Linked DNA regions of Homo sapiens: region 1 is linked to region 2. Evidence: fine-mapped expression QTL. Tissue or cell type: whole blood. Region 2 holds a variant in brackets; the other region holds the start of a gene. All regions are shown on one strand. Distances are between the middles of the regions.

Region 1 (9,380 bases), 130 kb before region 2:
CGATCTCCTGACCTCGTGATCTGCCCTCCTCGGCCTCCCAAAGTGCTGGGATTACAGGCACGAGCCACCGCACCCGGACTTATTTTTCTTTTAAAGTCTATTTTATCTGATATTTACCTTAATATCAAGAAGAAATTAAAAGACAAAAGAAATTAAGTTACAACAGCTTAATTTTTGTTGATATTAGTATTTGGCTGGTGTATTTGCCCCATCATTTCACTTTCAAACTTCTTGTGTCCCTGTGTTTTAGGGATGTCCCTTAAAAATAGCTAGATTTCAGTGGGGCACAGTGACTCACGCCTGTAATCCCAGCACTTTGGGAGCCCGAGGTGGGCAGATCGTTTTAGCTCAGGAGTTTGAGACCAGTCTGGGCTGCCTCTACAAAAAATACAAAAATTAGCCGGGTGTGGTGGTGAGTGCCTTTAGTCCCAGCTGTTTGGGAGGCTGAAGTGGGAGGAAAAAGAAAAAGAAAAAGAAAAAGAAAAAGAAAAAGAAAAAGAAAAAGAAAAAGAAAAAGAAAAGATCTTGTTTTTACCAAAGGAGCACTGTAGACAGGAAGGAGACAAGTAGATTGGTTTGGCATAAACAGCCTTAGCATAAAATGCAGAAGTTATCAAGTAGCTTATTCTAAAGAACTTTTCTTCATTTTAAATCTCAAAAAACCCTTTGCATTCATTCTTTAATTATTTTGTTATTTTGTCTTGTTTTGCTTTTATGTGCTTCCTTTTTGGTCCCATTATTTGTCTTCACTGAGATGGTAAGTTATAAGATTGCTTGACCTTACAGTAACCTAAAATCAACCTATCATTCCATGCATCAGACTGTCAACATTGAAACTACCCAATCCCTGGCCTCCACCACAGACCTCAGTCCCTGAATAGCACATTGGTATCCATGAGCTTGTGAGATCACCAGGGAAAAATCCCCCCAGCTGCTGAGATAATACCAGATGCTGATAGCAAAGAGCAGGCAAGCCAACAACAAGGATGCAGAAGATTTAATAGCTTTGCAATCTTATAGATCAAAAAGCCAATTAGCTCTGAGTAATTCCTAAAGGAGTCATCATACCATGTAAAAATAGTTCTGCAGTTTCTGGAAGAAGGGAAAACCAGGCCTCAAAGGGCATCATTGCACTCAGGTCATACCACAAGTGTGACATACTGATTACTATGCATACTGCACAGTTCAATGTTTGGAAGAAGAAATCACTGTGATACGTGGCAAGGTAAGCCACAGTACAGGAGAATACTGTAGCTCAGTGGTTCTCAAAAGGGGACTGTTTTGCCCTCCAGGAGACATTTAGCAATGTCTGGAAACGGTTGTAATAACTGGTGTGGGTGTGTGTGTGTGTGTGTGTGTGTGTGTGTGTATGGGGGCTGCTACTGACATCTAGTGAGTCAAGGCCAGAGATGTTGCTAAACATTCTACAATGCAGAGGACCCCTGCCCCCTGGCCCCCATCCCCCCTATCCCCACAAAAAATTATCTGACCCAGGTTGAAAGTCCTTGCTGTAGACTACACAGAGAAGTATACATAAGTAGCAAGATAGTGCTTCTTGTATCACAGAAGCCGTCTTGTAATAATGACTTCAAAGTTTTCCAGGAAGGATGATGGTACATGAAGATTCACTGTATCATTCTGTTTGCTTTGTATACATTTTAAATTGTCCATAATAAGGAAACATGAAAAGATTAGAGGGCACTTCTATATTTGATCCTCCTCAAAACGGCAGAAGGTTTTTACAAGCAGAAATCACTGAAGTTAATAGGTGGATATTTTCTAGTGGGTGGCTTTAGAATTTCAAAGTGAGACAGGACACTAGAAGACTAGATACAGCTGGTGAAAAACAATCATAAACAATGGAGCATTTTCCCAGAACCAGTTCTGAATACAGCACATAACTTAAATAGTTTTTCAATGCAAATGAACCTGGTTCATTTGACAAAACTTGCCATATTTAGAAGATACTAGCTCTAAAGTTCATATGTGGGGTAGGATTTCTTCATTTGGATTGTCTGTATTTTCTGCCAAACGTGTGTTTTTTTTTTTTTTAATTTTTTTATTATACTTTAAGTTATAGGGTACACGTGCACAACGTGCAGGTTTGTTACATATGTATACATGGGCCATGTTGGTGTGTTGCACCCATTAACTCGTCATTTACATTAGGTATATATCCTAATGCTATCGCCCCCCACCCCACAACAGACCCCGGTGTGTGATGTTCCCCTTCCTGTGTCCAAGTGTTCTCATTGTTCAATTCCCACCTATGAATGAGAACATGAGGTGTTTGGTTTTTTGTCCTTGTGATAGTTTGCTGAGAATGATGGTTTCCAGCTTCATCCATGTCCCTACAGAGGACATGAACTCATCATTTTTTATGGCTGCATAGTATTCCATGGTGTATATGTGCCACATTTTCTTTCTTTCTTTTTTTTTTTTTTTCTGTCAAGTCTGCTTTATTTAAGTCAATATTAGACCTGCTGTTCCTAAACAGAAATGCCCTGATGACAGAGGAGTGGGAGGGAAGCAGGCTCATGTGAGGGTGTGGGAAGGCCACTTGGCCCAAAATGTTTGCAAGAAATACACCAGGAAAAGCCTATTTTAATTCTCCTGCATTAGGAACTGCCCTGTGAGATTCCTGCAAAATAATCCTCCAGGCTCAGGACTATTCCTCTTCTCTTGTGCTAGACACATCTCTCTTCTGGAAAGTTTTCCTTCCTTTTTTTTTTTTTTTTTTCTGTTGACTTTTTTTTTTTTTTTTATTGATCATTCTTGGGTGTTTCTCGCAGAGGGGGATTTGGCAGGGTCATAGGACAATAGTGGAGGGAAGGTCAGCAGATAAACAAGTGAACAAAGATCTCTGGTTTTCCTAGGCAGAGGACCCTGCGGCCTTCTGCAGTGTTTGTGTCCCTGGGTACTTGAGACTAGGGAGTGGTAATGACTCTTAACGAGCCTGCCGCCTTCAAGCATCTGTTTAACAAAGCCCATCTTGCACCGCCCTTAATCCATTTAACCCTGAGTGGACACAGCACATGTTTCAGAGAGCGCAGGGTTGGGGGTAAGGTCATAGATCAACAGGATCCCAAGGCAGAAGAATTTTTCTTAGTACAGAACAAAATGAAAAGTCTCCCATGTCTACCTCTTTCTACACAGACACAGCAACCATCCGATTTCTCAATCTTTTCCCCACCTTTCCCCCTTTTCTATTCCACAAAACCGCCATTGTCATCATGGCCCGTTCTCAATGAGCTGTTGGGTACACCTCCCAGACCGGGTGGTGGCCGGGCAGAGGGGCTCCTCACTTCCCAGTAGCGGCGGCCGGGCAGAGGCGCCCGTCACCTCCCGGACGGGGCGGCCGGCCGGGCGGGGGGCCGACCCCCCCACCTCCCTCCCGGACGGGGCGGCCGGCCGGGCGGAGACGCTCTTCACCTCTCAGACGGGGCGGCTGCCGGGCGGAGGGTCTCCTCACTTCTCAGACGGGGCGGCCGGGCAGAGACGCTCTTCACCTCCCAGACGGGGTCGCGGCCGGGCAGAGGCGCTCCTCACATCCCAGACGGGGCGGCGGGGCAGAGGCACTCCCCACATCTCAGACGATGGGCGGCCAGGCAGAGACGCTCCTCACTTCATCCCAGACGATGGGCAGCCGGGCAGAGACGCTCCTCACTTCCTAGACAGGATGGCGGCCGGGCAGAGACGCTCCTCACTTTCCAGACTGGGCAGCCAGGCAGAGGGGCTCCTCACATCCCAGACGATGGGCGGCCAGGCAGAGAGGCTCCTCACTTCCCAGACGGGGTGGCGGCCGGGCAAAGGCTGCAATCTCGGCACTTTGGGAGGCCAAGGCAGGCGGCTGGGAGGTGGAGGTTGCAGCGAGCCGAGATCACGCCACTGCACCCCAGCCTGGGCACCATTGAGCACTGAGTGAACGAGACTCCGTCTGCAATCCCGGCACCTCGGGAGGCCGAGGCTGGCGGATCACTCGCGGTTAGGAGCTGGAGACCAGCCCGGCCAACACAGCGAAACCCCGTCTCCACCAAAAAAATACGAAAAACAGTCAGGCGTGGCGGCGCGCACCTGCAATCGCAGGCACTCGGCAGGCTGAGGCAGGAGAATCAGGCAGGGAGGTTGCAGTGAGCCGAGATGGCAGTACAGTCCAGCTTTGGCTCGGCATCAGAGGGAGACTGTGGAAAGAGAGGGAGAGGGAGACCGTGGGGAGAGGGAGACGGGAGAGGGAGACGGGAGAGGGAGAGGGAGAAGGAGAGGGACCCGATTATTTTCTTTTATCTCAGCAGTCAGCAGGGCGTAATGTAATTTATTTGCTTATATTTATGGCTTTCCCAAAGACTATTATTTCTCTATTCCCAGTGTCTAGCACATATTAGGTGCTTGAAAAATGCGTGTTTGTATTAGTGGTTAGGGGTAGATATTACGGAAGAAGATGAAGTCTACTTGTTGGCCTGTGGATGGCATTTCTCTGTTCTAATGGGAAGTAAGGCCGAAGACTTCGGAGGGCGCAACCCGTGTAGTAACCTCGCAAAGGGGCCCGCGAGTCTCCACGTCGTTGGCTGCCTTGCCTCGGGTTTCCGCTGGGTGGAGAGGAAAGTGGGGCGGGAAATCGAAAAACGAACTCTCAGCTCCCGGCATTCCTCGTGGGCGGTGCTCCCCTTTGACCCTTCGCTCGCGTGCTACACATCCGGGCTTCTGCTACTAGTGAGAGGAAGATGGCGGCCGCGGCTGTGGTGGTTCCCGCAGAGTGGATAAAGAACTGGGAGAAATCAGGGAGAGGCGAATTGTGAGTGTTCGGGCCGGAGGCAGGCGCACTGCCGGGCCGGGCCAGGGCGTCAGCTGCACTCTCACCTGTAGTGGGAGGTTGAGGGGGAAAGATGTACCCCCTCCCCCACCCGGGCGGCGGGCGTGGATGGTCGTCTAGGAGTTTCGAACTCGGGGAGAGGTGCTGTTTACCGCCGCGGACCTCCTTCCTTCCCTGGCCTCCCAGAAATCGCTACTGCCTGCGGTAGCTCGGCTTCCTTTAGCCTCTTAGTAGAACTCTTATTCCGCCCCTGCAGGTCTCCGCGCTCCCTCTTGGTCTCTTTTTGTGTCCCCCTCTTCGCTTGATCTCACTTGGCTCCTTTATCTTTATGGGGCTGAGCCGGGGCAATTCGGACTTTCCATCTCTCTCTGTGCCATTTCTTCACTCTGCACCCGTTGGACTCCGCAGTTTGGAGCTTGGCGCCTCCTCTGCCTGAAGTCCAAGGAGGGCGAACCGTCCCGGATTCCCCTCCCCTCCTCTTCGCCCGCTGCCGCGAAGCCCGGGGCGCCGCGAAGAACCCGGTTTGGCACCTCTCGCCCTCCCGGGGAGCGGTCTCTCGACTGTCCCGGCCTCGCGTAGCGCCGTGGGGAAGTGTGGCAGGGATTGCCGCTTTCCCTGAAGAACCACCGACATTTCTTTGCTCCGTCTTTTCACCTTAGAGCTATTTCGGGTTGGATTCAACTTTCGTCATTAAATGTTCCCTAAACCCCATTTTATCCTGGGACTGCAACTAATTCTGGCAGCTCTCCAAGCTTCTCCAGTACCTAGGATAACGCGTTTCCTTTAGTCGTGAAACTTTCCCCCGTAACACCGAAAACAGTAATTTGCCATACCCCTAGTCTTCTCGCCCCCACGTTAGAGCGCTCCCTCCTCCCCTTCCCCTGGAAGGAGTCGTTTAAGCAGCAAAGCAAACCTCAGATATAAGAACAAATATTAATAACATCTCATTTCCTTCTCTGGGTCGCTTTTAGATGCTAAAGCTCAACCCTGGATGAAATTAACCCTCGTTAGCCATTTTTGTCGTCCTTGCCCACCCCTCTCCATTTCTAGTAGCCAGTTTACCGTGGCTCATGCTAAAGATTCAAATCTTTGTAACTTCGTTACTTGGAACGAAACACGAGGAACGCGTTGCCGGATCCCGCGCTTGTAATAGTGCCAGCCTATGTGGCTTCCTCCCCCGCACCCCCCGCACTGCTGTATGAAGTCTTAACAGTGTGAGCTCTAGAATTCCCTAAATAAGCGGCTGTCTTAGCCACTTAAGTAGCTGAGTGACCTTGGGTAAGTTCCTTAACCACTTGGACTGTTTCCCCTTGAGTAAATTGGGAATAATAAGTACTCTACTCAAAGGATTGTTGTGAAGACTAAATAATGCCTGTAAAGCACTTGGCTTATAGTAAGTGCTCAAGTGATAGCTATTAAAAGTAATATTATTCCAACCTTTAGATATTTAAACTTCTCAGGACAGCTCATGCACTTAAAGTCTGTACCACTCAGGTTAGCAATTAATTGGTCTCTGACTTATTCATGTGTGTTTATTCTTGCACTGTAATGAATTGGGAGGCCTTTGAAATATAGGGACTATGTCTCATATTTCTTTTGGTTTAACACATGCCCCGCCCCCCCAGCCTATGCTTAGAATGCTTATTGGTTTATTAATTGTCAGAGAAGGCTATTTGATAAATCTTCGTTTTTAACTATAATGAACATTTTACAAATCCTCGTATGTGCTAGTTAACAAATAGCTGTCAAGTTTGATAGCTAGTTGACAAATAGCCATCAAGTTTGGGGAAGGCAAGATGGGAAGTTACCCAGCCAGACCATCATCTTCATCGATATTAGGGTAATCCCCCAAAACTGATAAAAGCAGTTCATTGTTTTGTTTACTTTCAAAGCCAGCTCATTTATTTAGGGGCTGTTATGTTTGTAGATTGCTCAGCTTCCTCCTTTCAGCTACTGTTTTTTGACAGTTTTACTTTTTTTTTTCCCCCTTGAGACGGAGTCTCGCTCTGTCGCCCAGGCTGGAGTGCAGTGGCGCGATCTCGGCTCACCGTAACCTCCGCCTCCCACGTTCAAGCGATTCTCCTGTCTCAGCCTCCTGAGTAGCTGGGACTACAGGCGCGTGCTACCACGCCCGGCTAATTTTTTGTATTTTTACTAGACACGGAGTTTCACCGTGTTATCCAGGATGGTCTCCATCTCCTGACCTGGTGATCCGCCCACCTCGGCCTCCCAACAGTTTTACTATTATTGCTGCCACCTTAGCATGAGTGGTATTAGGGCTATAAGGTGAAATTCTGCTTGGCTTCTGACTGGTAATGGTTTGAGAAAAAGTGATGTAGGAGATCGAAATACTTAGATAAAATGGAATTTTAGGTTCACATTATGTATATTTACATAATACATGCTATCTGTCATAGTTCTTATGTTTGAAGAGCTGCTTAAAAACTGTTATTAGAAGCCGAGCGTGGTGGCTCACGCCTGTAATCCCAGCAAATTGGGAGGCCGAGGCGGGTGGATCACCTGAGGTCAGGAGTTCCAGACAAGCCTGACCAACATGGAGAAACCCCATCTCTACTAAAAGTACAAAATTTGCCGAGCGTGGTGGCACATGCCTGTAATCCCAGCTACTCAGGAGGCTGAGGCGGGAGAATCGCTTGAATCTGGGAGGCGGAAGTTGCGGTGAGCGGAGATCGCGCTGTTGCACTCCAGCATGGGTAACAAGAGCGAAACTCTTTAAAAAAAAAAAAAAAACAAAAACCCAAACAAAAACAAACCAAAAACAACAGCAAAAAAACCTGTTATTAGAACTTACGTGTATGTAGTTATTGCATGACTTGTGGAATGTGGATTGAATTATAGTAGATCCAAATCAGTATAGTCAGTTTTATGATTGCATTCTGTTACAGGAAGAGAATTTAAAATTGTGTAACATAATAAGCTATTTTAAATAGTTAAACACATCACCATCCAGTACTTAGTTTCAGTTTATTTGACCTGTTTTCCCTCTATGAAACTTTGTTGCATATAGCATGTCTTTGGAGTTTTTGTGTCTTCCTAAAGATAGGTGTTAGCATTTTCATATTACTAGGCAGAATACGTGGTGGTGCAAATATATTACAAAAAACCTTTTTCCTTTGTCTGAAAACAGCTTCTGAAATATAAAACAGCAACTGGAAATGTTAAAAATGAAGGTAGTGTGCCACCACATTATTAGTGAAGCTATAGATTTGGCGTTTAGAATATGACCAATATTTAAAATTATACCTTGGGTGAATTTTTCCTTTTTAACAAGATAAATTAGCAGATAAGCTTTAACTTGACTGAAAATTATCTTTTTAAAAATAATGTGATATATTTCATGAGGTTGTTAATTCATTTCTTGTCTGTCACTTCTTACCAGCATAAATCTTTTCTGGGGGTGGTAGTCAGCTAGTGTTGAAAGCAACATAAGAGATGTATGGGGCATTTTATAACTTTCAGATAGGGCAAATTCTTAACTGTACGCCATGAAAAACAACTGTCTATTAAATGGAAGGTCTTGACTTTGAAGAATGTTTTATTAGGTAATTAGAGAGAAAAGTAAAACTGTATTTTGCCTATCTGAATGGTCCATCCATCACATATCTAGATATCCCATTATGTTTCCAGAGATACCAATTATGTTTTTAATGCTAAATTATAGAACTCTTAAAGAGTGACCTTTAAAGTGATCTTAAAGAGGGATCAGAAGGGCAAAGGAGGACTACCAAAATGTAATTGTAATTTCCAATAATACTTATATCTAAATGCAAACTCTTCCAAATTCTGAAAGATATGTATTTAATCACTTAATTTTGGAATTAGTTTTAGTTTCTTGATTATTTTATATTGACGTAGAACTTGCCATGATGAAGCTAATAAACTTGCATGTACTGGTAGATCCAGTGTAGAATTCTGTTTTTGGTAGAAATCATTAACACAGTGAACTCAGCATTTCTTTGTTACAGGCAACCTTAATGGAGAATTGATATTCGAAGCTCTTAATCTGAAGATGCTAGCCTCATGTTAATACTTAGTCTAATTTTGAAATACTTACGTTTGTTGAATATCATCTGTTTGTTTGAATAGCTTATTTAGGTATCAATTAGAAAGTTTTGTTAGGTCTTACCTTATTAATGGTAGTTACAATAAAGTTTTAAAATTTAATTGCCAAATGTTTTGATTGTTGTTCTTTTTCTTCTTCTGCTACTACATGATTTTAGACATTCTAGAACTTATTTAAGTATATTTGGTTGTTCAGAACATGCCATCTGATCTGAATTTCTTGGAGGATTCCAGGTAAAGGGATATAATCATTCTAAGAAATTTTAGTCTTGGTGGTTGAGTCTTTTTTCCTCGCAAAGTTGCTCCAAATTCAGCCAAAGCTTTATCTGAAACCTTTTCTTGATGTCTCAGTTTTCATTTAGCATTTAATTTCCCATTTCGACCTGTATTCATAAGCTAAGTATAAGTCTTAGTCTGTTTTCCTGGGAAGAGAAACATTCTTCACAAAATGTTGAAGCAATGTCAGGAGGTTGTATAGGCTACTACT
Region 2 (10,894 bases):
CAACCTCTACCCCCTGGGTTCAAGCGATTCTCATGCCTCAGTCTCCCGAGTAGCTGGGATTACAGGCATGTGCCACCATGCCTGGCTAATTTTTTTGTATTTTCAGTATAGACGGGGTTTCACCACGTTGGCCAGGCTGGTCTCAAACTCCTGACCTCAAGTGAACCGCCCTCCTTGGCCTCCCAAAATGCTGGGATTACAGGTGTGAGCCACCACGCCCGGCCTGTCTTTCTTTCTTTCTTTCTTTTTTTTTTTTTTTGTAGAGACGAGGTCTCACTATATTGCCCAGGCTGGTATTGAACTCATGGGCTCAAGTAATCCTCCTGCCTCTGCCTCTCAAAGTGGTACGATTACACATGTGAGCCACCACCGCCAGCAAAATGCACCTTCTTAACCTCACACAATATTTCAAAATTTTAAAAATCTGTTTGTTTTTAAAAATCAGAATTGACAAAATCCAAATTTCAGTTTTTCTTGAAGGATTGGAACATCTGGTAACATTGTGTTCTGATTTCTGCATAGCATCATTATGTCCTGATTTCAGCTAGACTTGTCTAGGTGCTGCCCCCCTTTAGAATAGAGCAAGGGCCTTTTTAAAAACAGTTCACCTCCGTCAGTCCCCACTCAGCTCGTTTCTTTTGTTTTCATCACGTTCTTGGCCTTTGTAGACAATTGATTTTGTAATTCCAGCTCTAAGCCTTTTTTTGTTTGTTTGTTTTCCCTTCAGTTCATACTTGGAAACTGACCTCCTAAGCTCCTGAAGATTTCTTGTTTTAGGAATGCATTGCCATTCTGAGGCTTATTCCTAGATGTTGACGATAGGTATTGGTAAAGGGTATGGGATAGGGAACTCATCAATGTTCACATTGATGCCAGAGAAACATTTAATATCTCTGTATAAGTGCAACATTGACTTTTTTTGCCACCAAACACACCATTTTATAGGAAGGGAACCTATACTGATTAAAAGAGCTTGCTTATTTGCTGCAGCATATTTTTTGAGGGCAGATTTAATATGCTCTCATTTTGGTCTGTATGTAGTAACCATTAAATGTATACTAGACTCTTGTAAGGAGCTTGAAATGACAGACACAAATCATTTCTGTCTTCATTATCAACTTTTATACTTAAAAAAAATACTGAGTATAGGTTTTGTGCACTGATATTCATAGGCATGAAAAGTTGAAGAGGGCAGGAGAAATTTTCTATTTCCTTGCTCTTCCACTTACGGTAGAGCAAATATTCATTTATATGCTGTTTTTTAAAATTTTGACATGGGCATGAGCACTTATAAAAGGCTTCCATACAACATTTGCCCTGAGTGTGTCTTTCCCCTACACACATAATTATCCTGAAAAGCATCCCTGGGTGCAGTTAAGTTTCAGCTCAACAGAATCCACGTCTTAACTCTGTTACATTTTATCCACGTGGAACATCTCAGGAACTCTGTTTGCTATAAAGAATTCCTAGGTTGCAGTATAAGGGTAAATGAAGGAGTAAAGTGGATTTAGGATGGCTGTCCCCATGTCTTTCTCATAACTTCTTTCTTCCTTATAAATATTTGTTTGACTTTTTAAATGTCAAGTTCATCTTTATATGCCTTTCTACCTGGGGTTTATGTGAAAAGAACGAGAGAATGAGAATAAAATCCTGACAGTTTCAGACACTAGTAAAAATGCATGGAATGCAGTTCTGGGATGCTTCCTGTGAAGTGAAGACACTTAACCAAAAATAATATATTATTTTGGTGGGCTTGATTTTATAGTTTCTCTTAAAAATTGTTTGGTTGCCATCCAGAGGGCTCTTTTATGAAGAATCTATATAAACTACTAAAACATTTCTTAGGACCTTTTTGGTGAATTTGATCATAAAATTAAAAAGCGTGTATGTGTTTTATAAAGGCATACCTCTGTTAAGAAGGCTGGTTTTATGTTTGCCTTTTCTTCTCTACTTTGATCACCACCCTAGCTGTTCCTTTCTCCAGACCACCTTACTTTTCAAACTTGATTCTTGCTATCACAGCTCTCTGTAACATCAGTTAAAATCAGCTGCCTCAACTCTTTGAGGATGTTTGTGCATAGGACGGCATTGTGAAACATAGGGAAATGGCAGTCTTACTAACAAAACAGGACCTATCTCTGGCCAAAAAGAAAAAAAAAAAACAAACAACTCAGGAGGTCCAGATAATTACCAATATAAAATGGCGTTCACACATATAATCTTGTCTCAGCAGAGTAGGAAGGCCATCTTCTGTTGAGATGTGTCCTACAAATGTGGTATGTGATATTACCAATACAGCTTATAGCACCAATAGGTGTCTGTGATGGAGAACAGCAGACTATGAACTGAGCCTGGAGTAGAAAATTTTTGAGAAGCAGCAACAGTCCTAGATGTGAAAAAGATAGATCTGTGTGATCCCTTACATTCAGAACTTACACTTTCTTATTTACAATGGTTAAAGCAGTACATATTAAAAAATAGTTAATAAAACACTTAGGAGAATGTTGCAGGTAATGTGGTATAAATGTTAATAAGAAGAAAAATACTGCTTTGCTGAAAATAGAGTCCTGAAGGCTGAGTTTGGCACTGCTTCATCACTATGCAACTTTCTTCTTGATGACAGCTAGCTCTTTCTGAAGTTCAGTAAACTTGGGGGCAGTTTTCAAGTTTGTAATCCTAACACCTCAGCATTATTTTATTAAAATACTCTGTGGACACTGCCAAGAGACTGACATCCAGTATCTTCTTTCCACTTGCTCTTGTGGTTGCTGATTTGTCATTCCAGGCTATGGACAGACCCCCTAAGCCGAAAGTCTCCCAGAGGAGGATGCCAAAGCTCCGTGCGTCACTCTCAGAATGATATCTCCCATAATTAAGAGCTTCTGGTGCTGTCCATTTAATGGGAATCTGCTTTAAGTCAGAAGATGAGTACACACCACCATCCTCTTGACGAGACATTCCAAAGTCACTGATTTTCAGAACATTATTTTCACCTCCAGGCAGTTTCTTACAGCAAGGTCCCTGTGTATACATTTTTTACTCGAGATACACCATCCAGAATCAGCATCTAATGAAAATTTCACTGAGTTTTAGTTCATTCTTCTTTCTCTGAAAGGAGAGGAAATCGCCTCCAGGAACCAGTTCCTTAATGACGTAGATAGGCCGTCTTTGTGTGTGAACTCCTATACTTTTGACATTACTGGGATGATTATATTGCTTGAGGATTTTGGCTTCTAGTAAAAATTTTAATTTCAGTTCCTGGGGAAGACGTTCTTGACGTGTTTTAACAGCAACAGCAATTTTATCCTTTAATGTGACCTTAAATGTGTCACCAAAATTTCCCTTGCCTCTTGTAACGTGGCACCTTTATGATTGAGAACCCATTTCTTATTCTCCTAATGGCCATACTGTGATACCATGATGCTCTTAATTGGAACATTGACTTTTTTTTTTTTTGCAATTTAAACAATTGAGATAAAATTCATATAACATCAAATTTACCTTTCACTTTTTTTTTTTTCTTTTGGAGACCAAGTCTCGCTGTTGTCTCCCAGGCTGGAGTGCAGTGGCGCGATCTCGGCTCACTGTGACCTCCGCCTCCTGGGTTCAAGCAATTCTCCTTCCTCAGCCTCCTGAGTAGCTGGGACTACAGGCGTGCACCACCACGCCTGGCTAATTTTTGTATTTTTAGTAGAGATAGGGGTTTCACCGTGTTAGCCAGGATGGTCTCGATCTCCTGACCTGGTGATCCACCTGCCTCGGCCTCCCAAAGTGTTGGGATTATAAGCGTGAGCCATGACGCCTGGCCTCAAACTTGCCATTTTTAAAGTGTACAATTCAATGGTTTTTAGTATATCCACTATGTTGTGCAAGCATCACCGCTGTCTAATTCCAGAGCATTTCTGTCACCCCAAAAAGAAACTCCATGCCTATTAGCAGTCACTCCCAGTTCTTCCCTTCCTCGGCCCCTGGAAACCAGTAATGTACTTTCTGTCTCTGTGATTTTGCCTGTTTTGGACATTTCATTTAAATGGAATTATGCAATAATTTGTGGCCTTTTGTGTTTGGCTTTCACTTAGCATCATGTTCTCAAGGCTCATCCATGTTGTGGCATGTATCAGTACTGCATTCCTTTTTATGGCTAAATGATGTTTCATTGTATGAGTGTGTACCACATTTTATTTATCCATTCAGCAATTAATGGACAGGAACAATGGCTTTTAAGTATTAAATTGTAAGTTCAACATTAAATGTATCCACAGTTATTGATAATATCAAGATTATACATGGTGTGAACAGAATGCTGTGTCGAAATGGTATGTAAATTATTTGTCAGCATTTCATGTAAGTGATTATTTTCTAAGGACCCTTCTAGCCCTGGTTTTAAGAAATATGTGAATGTAGTATTTTCATCAATAAAGTTTAATGCATTAAGCATTAGCTTAAAATTTGAATGAAGGCAGATGTGAAGATATTTGCCACATGTTGTAATAATCATGTTTTGAAATTATTTCAATATGAAGTATTTGAAAAATGTCAATACATAAAGGAAAGGAAATGAGTATAATTAAGTCAATATATTTTTAAAGCAATTTTTATAATTTAGCAGACACTGCATCTTAATATAAGTTACTATTAAAATTGTGTCCTTGTGAAAAATGTGATGTCATTTTCCTTTTTTTGTTGATCATGTAAAATAGGTTACTTTTCTTTGCTACATTTTCTATTTAATAAGCTATTGCTTGCCGTTGTGGAATGTTTTACTTGTTGCTCCATTTTTTTCTCCCTACCCCCACCCCTCTCTCCCACACGCACACAATGTTCAATTTTTTTTTTAAGTCATCATTAGTGTGTTTATCTTTAATGGATTCTAAGAATGGACAAAAAGAAACACACAAATATTTCATCCTTTTCTGGGGACTCAAGTCTTTGTTACCGATGGAACTCATTAACTTCTTGTTCTTTCTTAAATCTTCCTCCCTCCTTACCTTTTCCTCTCCTTCCTTCTCTTCTTCTTCCTTTCTTCTCCCCTCCCTCCCTCCCTCCCTTCTTCCCTCCCTCCTCCTTTCATTCTCCTTCTCTCCTTCTCCCTTCCTTTTCTCCTACCTCCTTTGACTAAGCCTCCCTCCCCTACTCCCTCCTTTCCTTCCTTCCTTCCTTCTT[C/G]TCTATCAATATAATCACTTTGTTTCTTTCAGGTGAGATCGGACTGGAACTGTTCGGCTGCGACCAGAAATTTATTTTCCTGAGTAAATTGCCGAGAATTAAGAATGAAGAGGGCCATTTGCATCTCCTTAAATTATTCAGTTACCTGCTTTATTGCTCCATGTGGAAAACTTAAAATTGTTAAGTTGTGCATTACTGTATTTTAACTTGTTGCTTAGTTTCTACATGTTTATTTTCAGTAATGGCTGAAAGTGTTAACTGTTCCATACTTTTAGCACAATGTGCTGCATAAGGTTACCTGTGTACAGAGTTTTACTTTAGATTAACTAAATATTGCCTGGGTTCAGTTTTTATTTCCATTCTGAAATGCTTCCTTTTTATTGTTTGAAACTGAAAATAAACAATTGTTGAACCCTTTTGATTTTACCTCATTTTAAAACTGTTTTAATTTATTATTTGGCTTGTTCTTAATATTAGTCACTAAAAGCAGTGGGAGCATTGTCTTATGAAATGCTTAGGAATCATTTTATATAGTACATGTACAACATTAAACGTGTTTAAAAAAGAAAAAGGTACCAGCGATCACTTGTCCCTTGCCATTTTTTCTTGTAATTATGTTAGACAAATCTTGGCGGCGGGGGGATCAAAACATAATTGTTTTAATTCTACAGCTGTAGGAGCTTTGTATTGCTGAACTTTCATCTGGAAAAGTTTCACAGTGACATTTTTAAAAGAGAATTTTTTTATCTGCCGAATTCTACCAGTGTAACCTTTTTTCTAAATAAACAATAGTTTTCTCAAATGGTTGTATATTATTGTGTATATTGTTGCTTATTCAGAATAACTTAGCAAAGATAATTCATTAAGGTTCCTAGCCCTTCTCAGTTCTTATTCCATGGGCTACATTATTTTCCAGTGACATATCATCCAATAATAGGAAAATATCCTGTTTGATTACCTCTGTAGTTGGAGTAAACAGTGGACTTGGTAGCATGCCTGGATTTTTCCATTTAGTCTTCAGTTCCTTGGAAACGATACCTATGCAAATTAAAATTTTCAGAGAATGACAAAAAGGATATAACTTTTTAAAGAATTGAGAATTACTGAGCATATTTTAAATGAATTGGCAAAAGGGTATAAATCTTGATGTCTCTTTTCAGGTAATTGTAATTTGCAAAAATCGATGAGCAGAATATTTATGGGAGGGTGATATATTCAGTGACTGTTGAGTGCTTATAATGTGCCTGACATAAAAATAGATGTTTTGTTAGAGTGATTTTTGACTTTGAGAAAATAACTATGGCTTACCTCAAAATTATTTGCCTGAAAGATATCAGGAAGAACTTTCCAGTTGTTAAATATGCATTCATATTTTAAAGGTTACATGATTGTGGTTTTGAACTAGAAAGTTTACTAATTAGATAGCATCAATATGCCTTCTCTGTGTTGCCCCAAATCATCAAACACAGGTAATTAGTTCTGGCCTTACTAGAAATGCATTGATGATGGAAAATACTATCTTTGGATTAACTGTGTAAAAATAATGTATGTTGGAAGTAGGAAATCTGTGTTTGTAAAGTGCTAGCTATTTTAGGGCATCTACTCTGTTCTAGGTCCAAAGAAGTATAAGACCTGTCTCGAGAGTGCTTCCAATCTAGTTTGGAAAAGAAGAACCAAATGAATGCTATGGGGGGCCAGCAAACTTTTTGTAAAGGGCCAGATAGTAAATATTTGTGGCCTTGCAGGCCATGTAGTTCCCATTGCAACTACTAAGCTCTGCCATTGTAGTGTTGATGCAGTTATAAATAATATGTAAGTGAATAAGCATGGCTGAGTTCAGTAAAAGTTTATTTACAAAAACAGGTGGAAGCCTAGATTTGGCCTGCAGGCTGTAGTTTGTCAACCCCTTCTATAAAGAGTAGAGAGTCCTATAGGGTATTCATTAAAAAATATTTGAGGGTGGGAGAGGGGTGAGGGATAAAAGACCACACATTGGGTACAGTGCACACTGCCTGGGTGATGGGTGCACCAAAATCTCAGAAATCACCACTAAAGAACTTATTCATGTAACCAAACACCACTAGTTCCCCAAAAACCTATTGAAATATTTGAGTGCCTCTTATGTATCAGAGGTACAGCCATGAGCAAAACAAACCCCTGCCCTCATGGAACTTCCATTCTAGTCAGTGGAGGCAGACAACAAACAAATAATGTTATTTGGAGGGAGGTCCTCTGAGGAAGAATAAACCTGGATAAGGAGACTGGGGTGAGGCCGAATTTACTGCTGATTACACAGTGACTATGGAGTGAAGATGAGCGAAGCAGGGCATTTTGAGGCAGTTATTACAGTATGAATATTTTATTACCGAATAATCTGTCTGTGATTCCCAACCCATCTTTGAACCTTTTACATAAACATAATATGCAGGATCTCTCTCTCTCTCTCTCTGTTGTTCTAGTGGGTGGCATCTAGGCTTGCCATTTTCTAGAAAGGAGTTCTTGACTAAAGGCTCATGAATGAGCTTGGGGGGTATTTATGGGCCTTCCAGAATCCCAGAAATTGGGTACAAGTTTGTGTTATGTACACTTTTCTGAGTCTATAGCTTTTGCCAGATTCTCAAGAAAATAAGCCTAAGGTGGTAAGTTTGTTTTAATGGGTCTTGTTCCAAAGGTGTTTGAGACCTTTATAACTAACTCTGAATCTTTTTGGGGATGGTGAGAAGGTGGAAGGCAGTTGTCTATCTACCTTGGATTAAATGGTAGGGGCTAAAGTTAGAGCAGCAGCCTTTCTTGCCTTGGCAAATAATCTACAAGTGATTTGCAATTTGTTGGAAAGTAACTGGTCCATGCGGGCCATTTCCTCTTTTAAGGAGGTACTTTAGCCAAGTATGGGCAGACATCCTAGTAGCCTTTTTTTTTTTTTAGGACAATTATGTAATTGATTTATTTCTACCCTACTATGATCCAAAAAGGATTTATGAAAAAAAAAAAAACATAGTACAGTATCTTTAAATGAGAAAATTTGTTTCTGGGTGAAATTAGTAACCTAAATGAAGCTATTGCCCCAAAATGTCATGTACAAGTGGGCCATGGAGAAACTGGCAGGCCACAAAGAGAAGGTAATGTGGTTAGTTATAGGAACTAGTGTCCATCAAATATAAAGCTAGTTGCAGCAGAGAAGAATGTTTCCTGGCACCGAGGCCTGAAAGAAACTTCTTTGCATTCACAAAGCAGTCATGTCTTTTCAGTGGATAAAACAAAGGAATGTGTCTTTTAAATGGTCTTGAGTATTACCCGATGGCCAACACCTTAGTTCATTCTAGTAAGGTTATTTCTACAATGACACCGGAACATGCGGTCCAGGCATGCAGGTCTCTGATGATTTGTTTCAGTCCAGGAAAATATTTTTAAATATTTGGGACAGGGTTTGTAAACTGGGATTTATTATAGCCTTGTTTTTTGTAAGTATGTTTGTAAAGATTAGGAAACTCATGCGACTGTTGTTTGGTTCCCATAATACAAGTAATATGAACAAGACCTCTTTAGTGTAAAAGCTTTGCCTGCCCTTTGTTTCATTTTTATGGATGGTGATCTCTAAGGCTGCCTCTTAGATAGAATGAAGCTTATTATACTGTAACTTCAATATTCTATCTCAATACTTATCAGAAATGTGGTTTAAATGCTTAAGTTTTTGTTTGTTTCTGTTTTTTTTGAAACAGGGTCTCACTGTTGCCCATGCTGGGGTGCAGTGGTGCGATCTTGGCTCACGGCAGCCTCCACCTCACAGGCTCAAGAGATTCTCTTGCCTCAGCTTCCCGAATAGCCTGAATTACAGGCACGTGCCACCACACACGGCTAATTTTTGTATTTTCGGTAGAGACAGGGTTTCACCATGTTGGCCAGGCTGGTCTCGAACTCCTGACCTCAAGTGATCCGCTTATCTTGTAAATGATTAAGTTTTAAAAATTGAAGTAACATTTCTAGAGACACTATCTTTCAGGGCCAAGGAGATTTTATTGGGTCCAGAGTTGAGAATAAAAAGAGGAGCTGCATAAAAGATGGTAATTCATGCTAACTGAACACAGATTTTCTTCTATTTATAGACAGAAGTAGACATAAGAACAACAAAAGGAGGGATATTGGAAGTAGTGATTAAAGGAAGTGTGGCAACCTGAGAAAATAAACCTTAATGTAAAAAATTCTGTTTTTGTTCCTGATTCTTAGGTACTGTTTTAAGCTGTAATGAATGGCCATTTCTAAATGGATCAGGCTTAAAAAGCTTAATTCCTTTGATGTGTTGCTAAATGGATGTGGTTAATAGAGGAAGGAGAGGGAACAGAGATGATTCTGATTGGGCACAGGGCACATAAGCTTGAGAAATACATAATTGCAGATCAGAAATAGCCTTCATTTCATGGATAGGAGCTAGAAAATGACCTGGCACTTAACCTCTAGCTTAGTTGGACCTCTGATTTTTGTTAGATGACAGCTAGATGTCCTTGGGCTCGAGTATCAGACCAATAGACAGCTATTATTACCTCTGTCCTCAAAAAATTTTCTTATATTTTAGCCAGAATGATACTGTACTTTGTTCAAGGCTTTCTTGATCCTAATTTCATGTGGTATGTAATAGTACTTATTTCCTATTACATATATCATCATTATCAAAGAACACTTCTGAATTGTAATTGGATACGCCATTGCTAGGCACTATTAAACAGCATCTTTTCTGCTTTCTGGAATAATTGATCCAAGACATCAGTAAGACAGACAAACATGCTAAGCAAGAAACAATATGTAAAATGAGTAAGGTATCCATACCACATGCAGCTGGGGACCAGGTACATTTTAAGAGGTTGGTGAATACTCGGTAAGAATTACCTCAGACTGAGTGTGATTTGAGAAGTTTTTGTCCACAACAGGTTCGTCTAGGAAAATTTTATAAAGGATTTGGACTCTAAGGAAGCCAATTGCTTTCTCCTTAGACCTAGAAGGTATAGGTCTTTTGGGGTCTCGTTTAACTCTAAGTTGGCACTGGCGGAGAGTGAATGTTGAACTTGGAATTCTGAACAATTCTGGTATTATGCAGAATCTTTGAAGCCAATTTGTTATACCAGCCCAGGAATAGATCAGATTTGAGAGACAAATGCTCTCTACCTCTTTGGGTACTTTTCCTTAACTGCCTCAATATTTTCCCCTTTTTTTGGTCTTAACCCCTGACATCATCAGTCTTTTTATTGCTTTAATCAGTGTTAATTACATTTTTCATGTCTTTACAGGTAATTAAAAAGTTGTCGTCTCTATGTCAAGATGACTTTCCTTGTCCATTTGTATTCCTCTGAGTGGGGATGAACTCCACTGAAACTTCTTACACTGTCTCACTTGATCTTCACAATGCCCTTCTGCTAATGAATTAAATCTAACAATACATGTCAAGCACCTAAAACAGGACCTAGTACCTGGCAGGTACTCAATAACTAGTAGCAGTTGTTGTTATTAGTGGTAGTATTCATACCAGTACTTTCCAAACTGAGAATCATTAGAATGAATTGAGAAACTTTTGGAGGTCCCCACATCAAGTATATTGAATCAGATTTTCTTAGAGTAGGGACCTGGAGTATTTTCTACAAACAGTTCCTCAGGTGATTCCAAAGTAGGGATAATATTTGGGAATTACGGAGTTAAACCAGCACACAATCCCCGCATCTCAGTTCTTAATTTTGGACAAAAC

The links. PIP is the estimated chance that this variant, and not a neighbour inherited with it, causes the effect.
Region 1: it holds the start of THOC2, and the variant in region 2 is fine-mapped to the expression of THOC2 in whole blood (TOPMed, PIP 0.97).

Annotation. Positions count from the first base shown.
Region 1 is chrX:123,728,364-123,737,743 of GRCh38, reverse strand. It overlaps THOC2 (THO complex subunit 2), which reads left to right and starts at 4,692. Exons shown (of 39, transcript NM_001081550.2): 1 at 4,692-4,792. The coding sequence starts at 4,722. RefSeq lists an enhancer at 4,677-4,756.
Region 2 is chrX:123,595,640-123,606,533 of GRCh38, reverse strand. It overlaps THOC2 (THO complex subunit 2), which reads left to right. Exons shown (of 39, transcript NM_001081550.2): 39 at 5,196-5,965. It also overlaps the pseudogene FERP1. Among named protein-coding and RNA genes, the nearest start is that of THOC2, 130 kb to the left of the region's middle. The variant C/G (reference allele first, on the strand shown) is at 5,164.